Linked DNA regions of Homo sapiens. The protein of the gene in region 2 purifies or fractionates together with the protein of the main gene of each other region. This does not show direct contact. Each region holds a gene or a part of one and is shown on either strand. Other genes may lie near its edges.

The links.
Region 1: the proteins of ALKBH2 (region 2) and ODAD3 purify together in Homo sapiens (affinity purification with mass spectrometry; 2 studies listed by BioGRID and IntAct, with this or other methods). This does not show direct contact.
Region 3: the proteins of ALKBH2 (region 2) and SYNJ1 purify together in Homo sapiens (affinity purification with mass spectrometry; 2 studies listed by BioGRID and IntAct, with this or other methods). This does not show direct contact.

Annotation. Positions count from the first base shown.
Region 1 is NC_000019.10:11,425,045-11,432,172, reverse strand, and holds part of ODAD3 (outer dynein arm-docking complex subunit 3), read left to right. Parts: intron 1-1,152; coding exon 1,153-1,274; intron 1,275-1,396; coding exon 1,397-1,474; intron 1,475-5,132; coding exon 5,133-5,300; intron 5,301-5,388; coding exon 5,389-5,490; intron 5,491-5,601; coding exon 5,602-5,727; intron 5,728-5,906; coding exon 5,907-6,029; intron 6,030-7,128. UniProt on the Homo sapiens protein: Component of the outer dynein arm-docking complex (ODA-DC) that mediates outer dynein arms (ODA) binding onto the doublet microtubule. Involved in mediating assembly of both ODAs and their axonemal docking complex onto ciliary microtubules.
Region 2 is NC_000012.12:109,087,688-109,090,599, forward strand, and holds the end of ALKBH2 (DNA oxidative demethylase ALKBH2), read right to left. Parts: intron 2,521-2,912; coding exon 2,322-2,520; intron 826-2,321; coding exon 519-825; 3' UTR 502-518; downstream 1-501. UniProt on the Homo sapiens protein: Dioxygenase that repairs alkylated nucleic acid bases by direct reversal oxidative dealkylation. Can process both double-stranded (ds) and single-stranded (ss) DNA substrates, with a strong preference for dsDNA.
Region 3 is NC_000021.9:32,661,889-32,669,016, forward strand, and holds part of SYNJ1 (synaptojanin-1), read right to left. Parts: intron 4,686-7,128; coding exon 4,545-4,685; intron 4,248-4,544; coding exon 4,055-4,247; intron 3,184-4,054; coding exon 3,025-3,183; intron 2,829-3,024; exon of another isoform or gene 1-2,828. UniProt on the Homo sapiens protein: Phosphatase that acts on various phosphoinositides, including phosphatidylinositol 4-phosphate, phosphatidylinositol (4,5)-bisphosphate and phosphatidylinositol (3,4,5)-trisphosphate. Has a role in clathrin-mediated endocytosis.

The DNA.
Region 1 (7,128 bases), on a different chromosome or scaffold from region 2:
GACTGTGGGACTTGAGTATGGAAGGATTTTGGGGTTTTTTGTTTTGTTTTGTTTTGTTTTTTGAGACAGAGTCTTGCTCTGTTGCCCAGGCTGGAGTGCAGTGGCAGGATCTCAGCTCAATGCAACCTCCACCTCCAGAGGTCAAGTAATTATTGTGCCTCAGCCTCCTGTAGCTGGGATTACAGGCACCCACCATCATGCCCGGCTAATTTTTTTTTTTTTTTTTTTTTGAGGCAGAGTCTCGCTCTGTCACCCAGGCTGGAGTGCAGTGGTGCGATCTCGGCTCACTGCAAGCTCTGCCTCCCAGGTTCACACCATTCTCCTGCCTCAGTCCCCTGAGTAGCTGGGACTACAGGTGCCTGCCACCATGCACGGCTAATTTTTTTTTTTTTTTGTATTTTTAGTAGAGGCGGGATTTCACTATGTTAGCCAGGATGGTCTCGATCTCCTGACCTCGTGATCCGCTCACTTTGGCCTCCCAAAGTGCTGGGATTATGGACGTGAGCCACCGTGCCCGGCCATGCCCAGCTAATTTTTGTATTTTTGTAGAGATGGGGTTTCACCATGTTGGCCAGGCTGATCTTGAACTCTTGACCTCAGGTGATCCGCCCGCCTCTACCTCCCAAAGTGCAAGGATTACAGGAACGAGCCATCATGCTCAGCCTCACACCTGGCTAATTTTTGTATTTTTAGTAGAGATGCGGTTTTACCATGTTGGCCAGGCTGGTCAACGACTGCATTCTTATAATATTAAGTTGATGAGCCTGGCACAGTGGCTCACACCTATAATCCTAGGACTTTAGGGGGCCTAGAACTTTGGGAACACCTGAGGTCAGGAGTTCGAGACCAGCCTGACCAACATGGAGAAACCCCATGTCTACTAAAAATACAAAATTAGCCAGGTGTGGTGGTACATGCCTGTAATCCCAGCTACTTGGGAGGCTGAAGCAGGAGAATCTCTTGAACCCGGGAGGCGGAGGCTGTGGTGAGCCGAGATTGCACCATTGCACTGCAGCCTGGGCAACAAGAGTGAAACTCCATCTCAAAAAAAAAAAAAAAGTTGATGATTGCAAAAAAGGTCTTTCCTCTGGGATGTTGCACCCATGCACCCACCCAGTAACTGTGTGTCTGTCCACCTCACCTGCCTGCCAGAGGGTGACCGGAAGGCTTTTTTTGAGAGCTCTCAGTGGAACATCAAGAAGAACCAGGAGACCATCAGTCAGCTCCGCAAGGAGACTAAGGCACTGGAACTAAAGCTGCTGGACCTGCTCAAGGTAAGGGGCAAAGGGGTGGGTGTAGGGTTCCCGTGGCGGTGGATGGTGGGGGACAAGTAGGTAGCACCTGGCCTTAGCTGGAGGTGGCATGCTGAAAGGTGACTGGACTTCCCTCCTTGCAGGGAGATGAGAAAGTGGTCCAGGCAGTGATTCGCGAATGGAAGTGGGAGAAGCCATACCTGAAGAACAGGACAGGACAGGTTTGCCCACCCTCGCCCCACCTCCTCCTTCATTTCCAGCCTGGGTCCCCTCACCACTGGACTCCAGGCTCACCCTCTCCAATCCTTCCTGCACACTAGCTGCCATTCATGTGCTCATTCAATTAAATCTTTATTACTCACTTTCCTTGTATCTGGCATCCTGGCATGGTAGTAAATGCAGTGAAAAAGCAGACCAAGTCTCCACTTCTAAAAACAGCTCATATCCTAATAGGGAAAACAAGTTAAAAAAAAAAACATCACAGCCAGGCGCGGTGGCCCACGTCTGTAATCACAGCACTTTGGGAGGCCAAGGCGGGCAGATGACCTGAAGTCGGGAGTTCAAGACCAACCTGACCAACATGGAGAAACCCTGTCTCTACTAAAAATACAAAACTTAGCTGGGCATGATGGCACGTGCCTGTAATCCCAGCTACTCGGGAGGCTGAGGCAGGAGAATCGCTTGAACCCGGGAGGCAGAGGTTGCAGTGAGCCGAGATTGTGCCATTACACTCCAGCCTGGGCAACAAGAGCGAAACTCCGTCTCAAAAAATAAATAAAATAAAAATAATTAAAAAAAATAAAACATTTTAAAAGTCATTGAACCCAAGAGGCAGAGGTTGTAGTAAGCTGAGGTTGTGCCACTGTGCTCCAGCCTGGGAGACAGAGTGAGACTCAGTCTCAAAACAAACAAACGAAAACAATGACCAGTGGCACATGCCTGTAATCCCAGCTATTCAGGAGGCTGAGGCTGGAGGATTGCATGAGCCTAGAAGTTTGAGACTATAATGAGCCACAATTGCACCACTGCACTCCAGCCTGAGTGACAGTACAACCTGTTTCTTTAAAAAAAAAAAAAAAAAAGGCTGGGCGCGGTGGCTCACGCCCGTAATCCCAGCACTTTGGGAAACCGAGGCGGGTGGATCACGAGGTCAGGAGATCGAGCCCATCCTGGCTAACACGGTGAAACCCCGTCTCTACTAAAAATACAAAAGGCCGGGCGCGGTGGCTCATGCCTGTAATCCCAGCACTTTGGGAGGCCGAGGTGGGTGGATCACAAGGTCAGGAGTTCTAGACCAGCCTGGCCAAGATGGTGAAACCCTGTTTTTACTAAAAATACAAAAATTAGCCAGGTGTGGTGGCAGGCACCTGTAATCCCAGCTACTCAGGAGGCTGAGGCACAGAATTGCTTGAACCCAAGAGGCAGAAGTTGCAGTGAGCTGAGATCGCACCACTGCACTCCAGTCTGGGCGACAGAGTGAGACTCTGTCTCAAAAATAAATACATAAATAAAAAATAAAATAAAAATAAAAATACAAAAAATTAGCCAGGCATGGTGGTGGGCGCCTGTAGTCCCAGCTACTCAGGAGTCTGAGGCAGGAGAACAGTTTGAACCCGGGAGGCGGAGCTTGCAGTGAGCTGAGACTGGTGCCACTGCACTCCAACCTGGGTGACAGAGCGAGACTCTGTCTCAAAAAAACAAAAACAAACAAACAAACAAAAACAAAAGATAAAAAATTAAAGGCCGGGCGCGGTGGCTCACGCCTGTAATCCCAGCACTTTGGGAGGCTGAGGCGGGCGGATCACCTGAGGTCGGGCGTTTGAGACCAGCCTGGCCAACATGGCGAAACCCCGTCTCTACTAAAAATACAAAAAATTAGCCGGGCATGGTGGTGCATGCTTGTAATCCCAGCTACTCAGGAGGCTGACGCAGGAGAATCCCTTGAACCCGGGAGGTGGAGGTTGCTGTGAGCCGAGATCATGCCATTGCACTCCAGCCTGGGCAACTCTGTCTCAAAATAAATAAATAAATAAATAAATAAATAAATAAATAAATAAAAAATAAAACACAGTCTAGGCATGGTGGCTCATGCCTTGTAATACCAGCACTTTGGGAGGCCAAGGCTGGAGGATCACTTGAGCCCAAGAGTTTGAGACCAGCCTGCCAACATAGTGAAACTTTGACTCTACAACAAATACAGAAGATTTGCCAAATGTGGTGGCACAGGATTGTAGTCCCAGCTACTTGCCAGGCTGAGGTGGGAGGATCACCTGAACTGGGGAGGTCGAGGCTGCAGTGAGTCATGTTCGTGCCACTGCACTCCCGTCCGGGTGACAAAGCAAGGCCTTGTCTGAAAAAATAATTATAAAAATTAAAAGGCTGGGCGTGATGGCTCACGTCTGTAATCCTAGTACTTTGGGAGGCCAAGGCAGGTGGATCACTTGAGCTCAGAAGTTCATGACCAGCCTGGGCAACATGATGAAACCCTGTCTCTACCAAAAATACAAAAACGTACCCAGGCGTCGTGGCATGCATCTGTGGTCCCAGCAACTGAGGACGCTGAGGAGGAAGGATCACTTGAGCTCAAGGGGCGGAGGTTGCAGTGAGCCAAGATCGAGCCACTGCACTCCAGCCTGAGTGACAGGGTGAGACCCCATCTCAAAAAACAAAACAAAACAAAACTGGGCTGGGTGCAGTGGCTCTTGCCTGTAATCTCAGCACTTTGGGAGGCCGAGGAAGGAGGATGGCTTGGGCCCAGGAATTCGCGACCAGCCTGAGCCACATAGCGAGACCCTGCCTCTATAATTTTTTTTTTTTTTTGAGACAGAGTCTCGCACTGTCGCCCAGTATGGAGTGCAGTGGCACGATCTTGGCTCACTGCAAGCTCCGCCTCCCGGGTTCTCGCCATTCTTCTGCCTCAGCCTCCTGAGTAGCTGGGACTACAGGCGCCTGCCACCATGCCCGGCTAATTTTTTGTATTTTTAGTAGAGACGGGGTTTTACCGTGTTAGCCAGGATGGTCTCGATGTCCTGACCTCGTGATCCACCCGCCTTGGCCTCCCAAAGTGCTGGGATTACAGGCGGGAGCCACCGCGCCCAGCCTAAAACATTTTTTAAAAGAAAAAAATGGCCAGAAGATAGCTGGGTGAGGTGGCTCACGTCTGTAATCCCAGCACTTTCGGAGGCCGAGGCAGGTGGATCACCTGAAGTCAGGCGTTTGAGACCAGCCTGGTCAACGTGGTGAAACCCTGTCTCTACCCAAAATACAAAAATTAGCCGGGTGTAGTGGCACATGCCTGTAATCCCAGCTACTTGGGAGGCTGAGGCAGGAGAATTGCTTGAACCTAGGAGATGGAAGTTGCAGTGAGCCGAGATCGTGCCACTACACTTCAGCCTGGGCGACAGAGCGAGACTCCGTTTCAAAAAAAAAAAAAAAAGAAAAGAAAACAAAAACAAAAATTAGCCAGGCGTGGTGGTGGGCACCTGTAATCCCAGCTACTCGGGAGGTTGAGGCAGGAGAATGGCGTGAACCCAGGAGGAGGAGGTTGCAGTGAGCCGAGATTGCACCACAGCACTCCAGCCTGGGTGTCAGAGCAAGACTCCGTCTAAAAAAAAAAAAACGAAAGAAAGAAAAATTTAAAAATATTTTTTTAGAACCCTGAGCCGGTGTAAGATCGCCAAGGTGGTCGATATAGACAGAGAGAAGACTCCGGTGCTCTCTCTACAAAAACAACACAGAAGGGGTGGCCAGGGAGGTGGGTAGAAAACGGGAGAGGGGAGTCCTGGAAGCCACAGTGTGGGAGAAGGAAGGGAGGAAGGGCTAGGTGTGTGTCGGGGTAGGGTGTTGAGGCTCCTGCTTTCGCTCCCCTCCTTGCGGCAGGCCCTGGAGCACCTAGACCACCGGCTGAGGGAGAAGGTGAAGCAGCAGAACGCCCTGCGGCACCAGGTGGTGTTGCGGCAGAGGCGGCTGGAGGAGCTCCAGCTGCAGCACAGCCTGCGCCTTCTGGAGATGGCGGAGGCGCAAAACAGACACACGGAGGTGGCCAAGGTAGGGGCGGGTGAGGCCTGCAGGGCAGAGGGTCGTGTGGGAGGGATTGAGTGCGGAGGGCCCTCAGCCCAGCCCTGCTGCTCTCCAGACCATGCGGAACCTGGAGAACCGCCTGGAGAAGGCCCAGATGAAGGCGCAGGAGGCCGAGCACATTACCAGCGTGTACCTGCAGCTCAAGGCCTATCTAATGGTAGGGACTAGGAGGGCTCGGGTGAGATGACAAACAGGGAGGGCGGGCTTGGCTAGGGACAGCAGTCACAGACCTGCACCATCTCCGCTACCCCTCCCCACCACGCCCCAGGACGAGAGCCTCAACTTGGAGAACCGGCTGGACTCCATGGAGGCTGAGGTGGTGAGGACCAAACATGAGCTGGAGGCACTGCACGTGGTGAACCAAGAGGCCCTCAATGCCCGGGACATTGCCAAGGTGCCACCCCTCTTGCCCTCGGCCATCCTGCCCAGCTGCCGCGGTCTCCCAGCTTGAGAATCTGACCTCAGCTGTCCCTGAGCTTCCCCTACGCCCCCGCCCCCATCTATCTCCCAGCACCCTGCGGCGGGCAGTGGTAGGTGCCAGCTGGTCTCCCTGCTACCCTGCCCGCCCTCCAGAACCAGCTGCAGTACCTAGAGGAGACCTTGGTTCGAGAGCGCAAGAAGCGGGAACGCTACATAAGTGAGTGCAAGAAGCGCGCCGAGGAGAAGAAACTGGAGAACGAGCGCATGGAGCGCAAGGTGGGCGCACCCAGGGGTGCGCGCCTGTGACTCCAGCCCAGCCCAGCACAAACCAGCCATGCCCTGGCTCTCCCTCATCCTAGGCCTTCTCCCATTTTCTGTTTCTCCTAACCCCGCCCCCTCTCTGACTCCACCCCCACTTGGTGCGAAGACCCCTCCCACATCCCTGACCCCGCCTCTCCTCCCCTCCCCTCCTAAGCGACTGCACCATTTTGGCTCTGACATGGCCTCCAGCCTTCCCCTTACTCAGTGACCCCCCTACCCATCCTTTCCCACCTGACTAGACTGCCTGTCCTGAATCTGACCGTGCCTCTGAGCCAACCGTTGCCTAAGGCCCTGCCCCCTCACTCTTGGCCCCGCCCCTGCACCTGCCCTGAGGCTGCCTCCCATCCAGCCCTCACCAAAGCCCTGTCCTGCCTTTTTGTTTTTTGGGTTGTTGTTGTTGTAGTTGTTGTTTGATAGGTTTTTTTTGCATATATATATATATATATACGTATATACATATATATACATATATGCATATATGCATATATACACACACATATATACACATATACATACATATATACATACATACACACATATATACATATATACATACATACACACATATATACATATATACATATATACACACATATATACATATATACATATATACACACATATATACATATATACACACACATATATGTATATATACATATACACATATGTGTATATACACATATATGTATATATACATATACACATATGTACATACACACATATATACACATATGTACATATACACATATATACATATATACACATATGTACATATACACATATGTACACATACACATATATACACATATGTACATATACACACATATACACATATGTACATATACATATATACACATATGTACATATACACACATATATACACATATGTACACATACACATATGTATATATACACATATGTACATATACACATATGTATATATACATATGTACATATACACATATACACATATGTACATATACACATATATACATATATACACATATGTACATATACACATATACATATATACACATATACACATATATAC
Region 2 (2,912 bases):
AAGATAGAGAAAAGGGGCTGAGCCTTGGAATATATGGTTATAAGCAGATCTTTCTTTGGTCAGAGACCAGGGTTTGAGCCAAGGCTGTAAATGTGAACAATAGCTGTGCAAAGCCTTTTAACCTGACTTCTTCATTTTGTAAATTATTATGCATTAAGTAGCAGCCCAATAATCTGATTTCTAGTTTTATTTTCAAAGTAAGTAGCTTCTTTTGGGAAAAACCTAAGTTAAACTAGTAGTTTTGCCATAATAACTGCTGATTTATGTATTTGCTAAAGGTACTTTTGTATCTGCTGTGTATTATAGCAATAAAATAATCATTTTGTTAGAAAAAAATCACCTGGTGTTCTTTTGTAATACACTGATCTGTTACAAACATCATCTTTCTGAATTCTGCATTGTTACATAACAAGCCCTACGCTTTAAACCTTTCTGTGTTCCCTGTTGGTAAGGGAAATGCCAGCTCCCTCTTAGAGTCGAGAGGGAAAGAGAAAAGAGAAAAACTGTTAAAAATGTTTTTATTTTTTAGTAAGCAAAATTTTACGAAAAGTCAGATTCACCCGTGGAGCCAGAACCTTCTTTCTCACGGGAAGACTGTGGTACCAGTGCGTGTTGGTCGGGTGGTTCATCATTAGTAAGCTCCCGTGGGCCAGCGGCAGCCTGACCACCGCCACCCTCCTGGAGGGGCTTTTCCCACGGGAATCCTTATGCCGGAAGACAAAGTCTCTGCAGGCACCGAAGGAGACAGAGGCAATGGGGCTCCCAGGGGCCAGTTCTCTTTCATCATCTCGGTGCTCCCCGATGTGGTCACAGCCATCTTTATACCTGCAATGAGAAAACAAACACAGTGCATAAAAACAACCCTCTCCTGAAACTCACCAGCACCGCCAGCCCTCGTTTTCCTCACAGTGTGAAACAGCACTCTGCATGGCTGTACCTGCCGTTGTTTCTGCGAGGGCTTGAGGTCCACAGTGGGCTCTAAGATAAGCCAACGCTGAAGAGGTCTGTTGACGTATTTGTTCATGTGACTTATTTATTATTATTTTTGAGAGGGTCTCGCTCTGTCACCCAGGCTGAAGTGCAGTGGCACAATCATAGCTCACTGCAGCCTCGGCCTCCTGGGCTCAAGTGATTCTCCCACTTCAGCCTCCCAAGTAGCTGGGACTATAGGTATGCACCACCCCACCTAGCTAATTTCTTTTCTTTTGCAGAAACAGTTTCACCATGTTACCCAGGCTGGTCTCAAACTCGGGCTCAAGCAATTCACTCTCCTTGGCCTCCCAAAGTGTTGGGATTACAGGCATGAGTCACCACGTCCGGCCAGTTCATGTGCTTTAAAACTGAAGACACCCAAAGCCAAAATCACGTCTTACTGTAGTTCCCCTGGCCAGTCTATGTAAACCTTTATCACATGATTTTGCCCTGCACTCAAAGGCCATACTCTGCATAGCCCGGCCCCTGCCCACTGCTGAGCTCATGCCATCCCCTTCTTTCCCTCATTCACTGCTTTCCGGCCATCCTGCAGCATTTTTGCTTCACAGACACTCCAGAGTCCCTCTGCTCTCCCTCCAGATGTCTGTGGCTGGCACTCTCCATTTAGTTATCAGCTCAAACGCACTGCCTCAGCCCTCCTCTAACCACCCCATCTGAAGTGACCTTCCCTTAAACCCACCCAGGGTTCTCCACCAGGGTGATTCTGCCCCAGGGGACAGGTATTGGGGGGTGGGGGACACTACTTGCAATCTAGTGGATGGAGGCCAGGGATCTGCTCAACATCCTGCAAGGCACAGGTCAGCCCCAACAACAACGAATGACTGGGCCCAAAATGTCTGCAGTGCTGCCGTTGAGAAACCTTGCCCTAATCGCAAACCTCTCAGCCATTCTCAGTCAAATCGGCCTGTTTAATTTTTTGCAAGATGGTTATCACTGTCTGAAATCGTCTAGGGTCAGGCATAGTCGTTCACGCCTGTAATCCCAGCACTTTGGGAGGCTGAGGTGGGAGGATCGCTTGAGCCTAGCAGTTTGAGACCAAGCCTGGGCAACATAGAAAAACCCTGTCTCAAAAAAAAAAAAGAAAGAAAAAGAGAAGAAGAAATTATCTCATTCAGCTGTTTGTTCAGGAGTTAATCACCTCTCACTTCCTACTCCGGGATGAGCTCCAGGATCCAGGAAGACCGAGTGCTGGCGCTATTCCACTCTTAGAGCCCCAGTGTACTAAGAAATGATTTGTACCAATGAACCAAATAGGGTGGAACCCTAAACACTTCCTTTTGGAGGAGACAGAAGACTTGTAACATTGAGTCCACTAAACAGGGTGTCACCTGTTGATGAGCACAAAGTTGAAGGTCTGTCCAGTCACCCCAGAGACGTGATCCCGGATGCGCTCTAGAACTGGGATCCAGGGCTTTGGAGACAGCGTGAGGCCTGAAAATGTGTAGGTCAGCCCAGCGTCGCCATACGTTGCCTGCTTCCTGGGCACACTGTGCCACTTCCCGAATACCTGGACTCTGGCCAGTGCTCCTGTGCAGAGGAAACATGGCAGTTCCTTTCTACCTGACCCCCATCTAGAAATCCAGATGCCCCCCCCAACCCGCACTGCCATCACCAGAAATCCAGTGCCCCACATACATGCTCCCTGGGTATTCAAGATTGAAAGGGAAGTAAGGAATAACATTTCCCCGTCATTCCATGCAATTTAAACCCCTCTTCAATCATCATTTTGGCTTGCCCCAAATTTTCTTTTTGTTTTGTTTTCTTTGAGACAGGGTCTCCCTGTGTCACCCAGGCTGGAGTACAGTAGCACAATCTCAGCGCACTTCAACCTCCACCTCCCGTGCTCCAGCAATCCTCCCGCATCAGCCTCCTGAATAGCTGGGACCACAGGGGCGTGCCACCATGCCTGGCTAACTTTT
Region 3 (7,128 bases), on a different chromosome or scaffold from region 2:
ACACAAACAATCTCAACTTGGGTAAATGAGAGGTGTCCCGTCAGCTTATTCTCCCCAGTTCACCCTTTCTCTCCAAGTGATCGCATGTGGATCAAGGACTGGAACGTAGTCCCTTTGCGGCCACAGTGGAAAAGACCTCACACCATCATCCTGACCACCCCCACGGCTGTAAAGGAGAAGGAATCCCAGCCTGGATCCACCACAGCCGTGTGAAACCTGCAGCTGCTGAAACTTGGGAGGCAAAACCGAGCCCAGACAACTCCTGAAAGTGACTCTGAGGAGGATGACAAGCCCTGCTCCAGTCACACCCGGAAGCTGACTGGTCTACGCACGGCCGAGGCATGAGGAGAATCATCGTGGGACTCATTTTCCTTATAATTTGGACTTGTATAGTAAAAACTTCCACTGATTTTCCCTGCATAGAAGACTGCTCTCAGTGTATACATCAGGTTACTGAGGTAGGGTAACAAGTTAAAACAATCTTTCTGTTCTATAGTTACTATGAATGCCTAGGAACTTTAAAAGGAACGTGTTTATATAATGACACTCAGTACGAGGTATGTAGCCTAGGAAACGACTGCCCAGATGTGTGTTATGATCCCTCTGTGGCCTCCCAGGTCCACAGTTTTTGAAGTAAGATTAAGGACTGAAGACTGATGGGGACTTGTAAATGATACAAGTATTAGCCAAAACAGAAGAAAAAGGGGTGCCCAAACGCATAATCTTGAAATTTGATGCCTGTGCTGTCATTAAGAGCAATAAGTTAGGAAGGGGTGTGGCTTTTGATTGGGAAAAAGGCTATATGACCAAAAATAAGTATATTTGTCATGAATTAGGACTGTGTGGAAATCAATGTGGATACTGGTGTCATTTGGGCCACTTGGATAAAAAATGAAAAGGATCCAGTGCAGCTTCAGAAAGGAAAAAGTGGCCCTTCCTGTACTAAGGGACAATGTAACCCCTTAGAGCTAGTAATAACCAATCCCCTTGATCCTCGCTGGAAAAAAGGGGAGCGTGTGACCTTAGGAATCAATGGGGCTGGACTGGATCCTCGAGTAAATATCTTAGTTCGAGGAGAAGTTTACAAACACTCTCCTGAGCCAGTGCTTCAAACTTTCTATGATGAACTAAATGTGCCAGTACCAGAAATTCCAGGAAAAACAAGAAATTTGTTTTTGCAATTAGCCAAGCATGTAGCCTAGTCTCTCAATGTTGCTTCACATTATGTATGTGGAGGAACTGTAATGGGAGATCAATGGCCACGAGAAGCCCGAGAATTAGTACCTACAGACCCAGTTCCTGATGAATTCCCAGCTCAAAAGAATCACCCTGATAATTTCTGGGTCCTAAAAACCTCAATTATTGGACAATATTGCATAGCTGGAGAAGGAAAAGAATTCACTCACCCCGTAGGATGACTTAGTTGTCTGGGACAGAAACTGTATAATGGTACCACAAAAACAGTCACTTGGTGGAGTTCAAATCACACAGAAAGGAATCCATTTAGTAAATTCCCAAAGTTGCAAACCGTGTGGACCCATCCGGAGTCCCACCAGGACTGGACAGCCCCCACTGGATTATACTGTATATGTGGGCATAGAGCTTGTGCCAAATTATCCAACCAGTGGACAGGTAGTTGTGTTATTGGCACTATTAAACCATCTTTCTTCCTACTGCCCATAAAGACAGGCAAACTCCTGGGTTTCCCTGTCTATGCTGCCCGAGAAAAGAGAAGCATAGCTATAGGAAATTGGAAAGATGATGAATGGCCCCCTGAGAGAATCATACAATATTACAGACCTGCTACTTGGGCACAAGATGGCTCGTGGGGATACTGGACCCCCATTTACATGCTCAACCGAATCATACGGTTACAAGCTGTCTTAGAAATAATCACTAATAAAACTGGCAGAGCCTTGACTATACTGCCCTGGCAAGAGTCTCAGATGAGAAATGCTATCTATCAAAATAGATTGGCTCTCGACTACTTGCTAGCAGCTGAAGGTGGGGGTCTGTGGGAAATTTAACCTTACTAATTGCTGTCTATACACAGATGATGAAGGGCAAGTAGTTGAAGACATAATTAGAGATATGACAAAACTGACACATGTGCCTGTGCAAGTGTGGCATGGATTTGATCCGGGGGCCATGTTTGAAAAATGGTTCCCAGTGCTAGGAGGATTTAAAACTCTTATAATAGGAGTTATAATAGTAATAGGAACCTGCTTACTGCTCCCTTGTTTGCTACTTGTACTTCTTCAAATGATAAAAAGCTTCATCACTACCTTAGCTCACCAAAATGCTTCAGCGCAAGTGTACCATATGAATCACTATCAATCTGTCTTGCAAGAAGACATGGGTAATGAGGATGAAAGTGAGAACTCCCATTAATGAGTGAAGTTCTCAAAGGGGGGAATAAGGGAGGAGACCACCCCTCATATTGTCTTATGCCCAATTTCTGCCTCCAAAGAAAGAAGTGAAAACTAAAAGGCAGAAATGGAATCACAGGCAGATAGCCCAGCACTGTGCCCTGGGCCTGGTAGTTAAAAATCAACCCTTGACCTAACCGCTTGTGCTATCTATAGATTTCAGACATTGTATGGAAAAGCATCGTGAAAATCCCTGTCCTGTTCCATTCTGATTACCAGTGCATGCAGCCCCCAGTCCCATACCCCCTGCTTGCTCAATCGATCACGACCCTCTCACATGGACTCCCTTAGAGCTGTAAGCCCTTAAAAGGGACAGGAATTGCTCACTCGGGGAGCTCGGTTTTTGGAGACGTGAGTCCGCTGCTGCTCCCAGCTGAATAAAGCCCTTTCCTTCTACAACTTGGTGTCTGAAGGGTTCTTGTCTGCAGCTCATCCTGCTACACTTTAAGGAAAGATAATTCTATTATCTGTTTACCTACAGATGCATATTTAAGTACAAAAAGACCCCAAGAAAATTTTAAAACATCTTGATTTAAAAAGGCATGTTTCACGACCCAAAATCTTAATGCAAGTATTTTCTCAAGTATAGATATACCTGTCCAGCATTTTTCTGATTGATAAGTTGATCTCCTGCTATAAGAGAATCCCAATTTTGCTGTCTTATGAGCTCTTTAACTTCTTCGTTAGGGAGATCGATTCGATAGTTGAAATCACCACACCAAAATACATAGTCATGGGAAAATAGCATCCTTCCCTGAAAGCAATGAGATAGAATTTTAAATTCAAAACAATCAATGTTCAAAAATGTTTTACAACTATTTCTTTGCCTGAGATATGCTTGTCTCCTCCCATGTCCTGTTTCTTTGACCCAACAGTAATAACACATGTGAAACGAAAATAAATCTCAGGACCCCAAAATCACTAAGCCCAGAGAAAAATCAAGCCAGGAACTATGACAGGTAAACCTGCCTCCCATTTTACTCCTAAATAAGATAGCTCCAAAGATAAGAAGCTACATAACTCCCTCACAATTTGCCCACAGGAAATTCCTTGTGGACAAAGTATAGACTGAACTCAAAGTCATCCCTCTGAGACTCACCTGAGACAAATGCACATCTGACTGCTTCCTCTGCCCTATTGTTTATGCAAAAATGCAGATTCACTGAGCCACACTAAATTGTGTATTCAGTGGAAGGCTGATCTAGGACTTAAAAGAATGCAACCTTTTGCGTCTTATCTACTTCTAACCTGGAAGCCCCCACTTCGAGTTGTCCTGCCTTACCAGACCAAACCAGTGTACATCATACACATACTGACTGATGTCTCAGGTCTCCCTAAAATGTATAAAAGCAAACTGTACCCCCGACCACCTTGGGCACATGTCATTCTGAATTCTGGAGGCTATATCATGGCCACATCCTTAACCTTGGCAAAATAAACTTTCTAAATTGACTGAGCCCTGTCTCAGATATTTTGGGTTAATACTCATGAAATATCTATTTAGGTGAATATTCTTAATGTTTCTAGGAACTATCTTAAATTTCCAAAAACATTGATGTAGAATTTGGGGCAAATTAAAATATATTTCAAAGCTTTATCTTCAAGAACAAGCAGCAAGAGCTTACCATAGGAAAACTCAATTTTCGTGCTATTTCTATAAAATCTTCATTTCTTTCTTTGACTTGTGACTGCCCTGCAGCAAAGTGGCTACAGACGAAGCAAAGGCTGGTTGTATGGAAGAGCATTCGGATTGCAACTGCTCCCTTATTTCCAGTTGCACCTCCCATTCCAGTCTTCACAGTATCAACTGCAACATCCCTTTGAAACAAAGAATTCTAAATCGCAGATTTGAAATTTCAAGAGTTCCATGTGCATAGGAAATGAGGAATATACATAATCATTTAAGTACACATGGTATGGTACTTTGAGGGCAAGCCTTTGAAATAGTACAGTGAAGCTATTGGTGAGTCTTTAATCAAAACCCCCAAAACCCCATTTTAAAACAAGAACTATGGATAGTTTTTGTTTGAAGAACTGAAACAATAAACATTCTAGGCTTTTTTCTTGTTATTTAATGGTAGGAAGTAGCCTTAGAGGAGTGTTCTGTTTACTGACCTGATAAAAGGAGCATGCTGTGGTCTGATAAAAACAAACAAACAGACGCCCACCAACTGTTCAGAAGCCAGCAGCACATACTTGTTGTCTCTGGAGATTGTCTTCTGAAGTTCTACAGCCCAGAGCTTCTGATTTGTTGTGCTACAAGAAAATATTAAAAAGAGAATTTTTTAAAAAGGTATTGACAATAGCCTATTTTATGACAATTGTCAATTATACCTTTATCTACCCAAATATCCTAAGACTCTGAAGGAAGCTTAGGCTGTTTTTGTTTCCTTTAAAAAGGAAAATCTACAATTTAGCCAAAAGAAAACCACATTTCAAAATCTAATCTATTACTTCTTTACAAAGAAAATATAAAGACATTAAATGGCTACTCACTGGGTGAGTAAATTCAAACTTATACATTTTACTTTTTCCTTAAGTATTCATTAAGATCACAGAGAAGTATAGAAGTATCTGTGGGAGATTGGTTTCAGGACCTCCCATGATACCAAAATCCAAGGATACTCAAGTCCCTTACATAAAATGGAGTAATACTTGCATATAACCCATGTAAATCTCTCGTATACTTTAAATCATCTCTAGATTACCTATAATACCTAATACAATGTAATTAGTTGTTATATTGTAATGTTTAGGGAATAACGATACAAAAAAGTCTGCAAGTAAAAAAGACAAAAAAAAAAAGGCTACACATGTTCAGTATAGACACAATTTTAAAAAATATTTAATATTTTGATGAGTTGAATCCAAAGATGTCAGACCCATGGATAAGGACAGCTAACTGTGCACATATATGTGACTATATGTGCTTCCAAATACATTTCCCCACTTTTCAAAATTTTTCTAAATTATAACTAATGTCTTTTTAAAAAATCTTGCTATGGGAAATTAGAAGACATAATCATTAAACAAACCACCATATACCCATTTCAAAATTACCAACATTTTGCCAATCTATTTTTTCCATCCTCTTCACCTTATCACATTTAAACATTAATAATTCCTTAATATCATCTAATAGTTTATACTTAAAGTTCCCCATTTATTAAAAAAAAATCTTCTAACAGTTGGTTTGTTTCTTTAAAAAGGGTCCAAACAAGGTCTACATATTGCATTTGCTTGTCATGTCTCCTAATCTCTCTTTTTTTCTTGAGATGGGGTCTCACTCTGTCACCCAGGGCTGGAGTGCTGTGGCAGGATGTCGGTTCACTGCAACCTCTGCCTGAGCTCAAGCGATCCTCCCACCTCAGCCCCGCAAGTAGCTGAAACTCATTCCTCATCTTCTCAATGAACCTTATCTTGATCATTCATTTGAGACTTCCAACACTTCCCTGTGTCCCTATAGTTGATCTCCTTTTCCTCTCTTTTCCATTGCACTTTTCTAACATGCTGTATAATTTACTTATTGTTGTTATTGTTCACTGTCCGTTTCTTCCCACTAGAATACGAAGTCCATGAAGATAGGGATTTTTGTCTGTTTGATTCATTGGAGGTACTTAAGAGTGGTACTCAGTAGGTACTGCTTAAATAAATGAATAAATATTCACTACTTTATTAAAGAAGAATATATATGTGTGTGTGTGTGTGTGTGTGTGTGTGTGTGTGTGTGTGCATGTGTGTATATATATATACATATACATATTTGAGACAGAGTCTTGCTCTGTCACTCAGGCCGGAGTGCGGTGGTGCGATCTCCACTCACTGCAACCTCCGTCTCCCAGGTTCAAGCGATTCTCCCTGCCTCAGCCTCCTGAGTAGCTGGGATTACAGGCACGGGGCACCACGTCCAGCTGATTTTTTTGTATTTTTAGTAGAGATAGGGTTTCACTATATTGGCCAGGCTGGTCTCAAACTCCTGACCTCAAGTGATCCACCTGCCTTGGCCTCCCAAAGCATTGGGATTACAGGCATGAGCCACCACACCCAGCCTAAAGAATTTGATTAAACCTAGCCTAAAGAAGAATTTGATTAAACTCTATTTAGACAAACAATTGATCCATGCACTTAGTACTAGGAACCCTCAGAGTTATAGTCTAGTTTAGGACCTGAATATATTTTTCAGGAAACATAATCAAACAACAAAATGGGTGAAGTTGATTTCTTTCCAATTTTCCTGATGTGAATTGTTTTTCATTTTGCCTAATAAAATATTTGTCACTTGCAAGATTGATGACTATTTCAGCCTATAATTTTCTCCTAAAAATCTTTAAAAATGTCATAAAAGATGGGAAACTGCTGAAATTTAAAAGCAAGCATACTTTGTTAAAATAAAACACTGAAGTTTTAAGCCTCACTCATATAATTTGTATTTATAATATGGATTCAGAACAGCGTTCCCAAAGTGTGATCTGGAGACATCTTTGAGGGTTCCCAAAGCCCATGGGGTCACAACTATTTTCATCATACTATTAAGACATCTTTCACTGTGTTGACTAACATTTGCACTGATGGTGCAAAAGCAACAATGGGTAAAAGTGCTGGTGCTTTCACTCGAATTTAGGCACCAAACTATACTAGTCATCATTACAATCCCCACTGCCATATACTTGCAGGAAAAAAAAAATGCCACTTCGCCTAA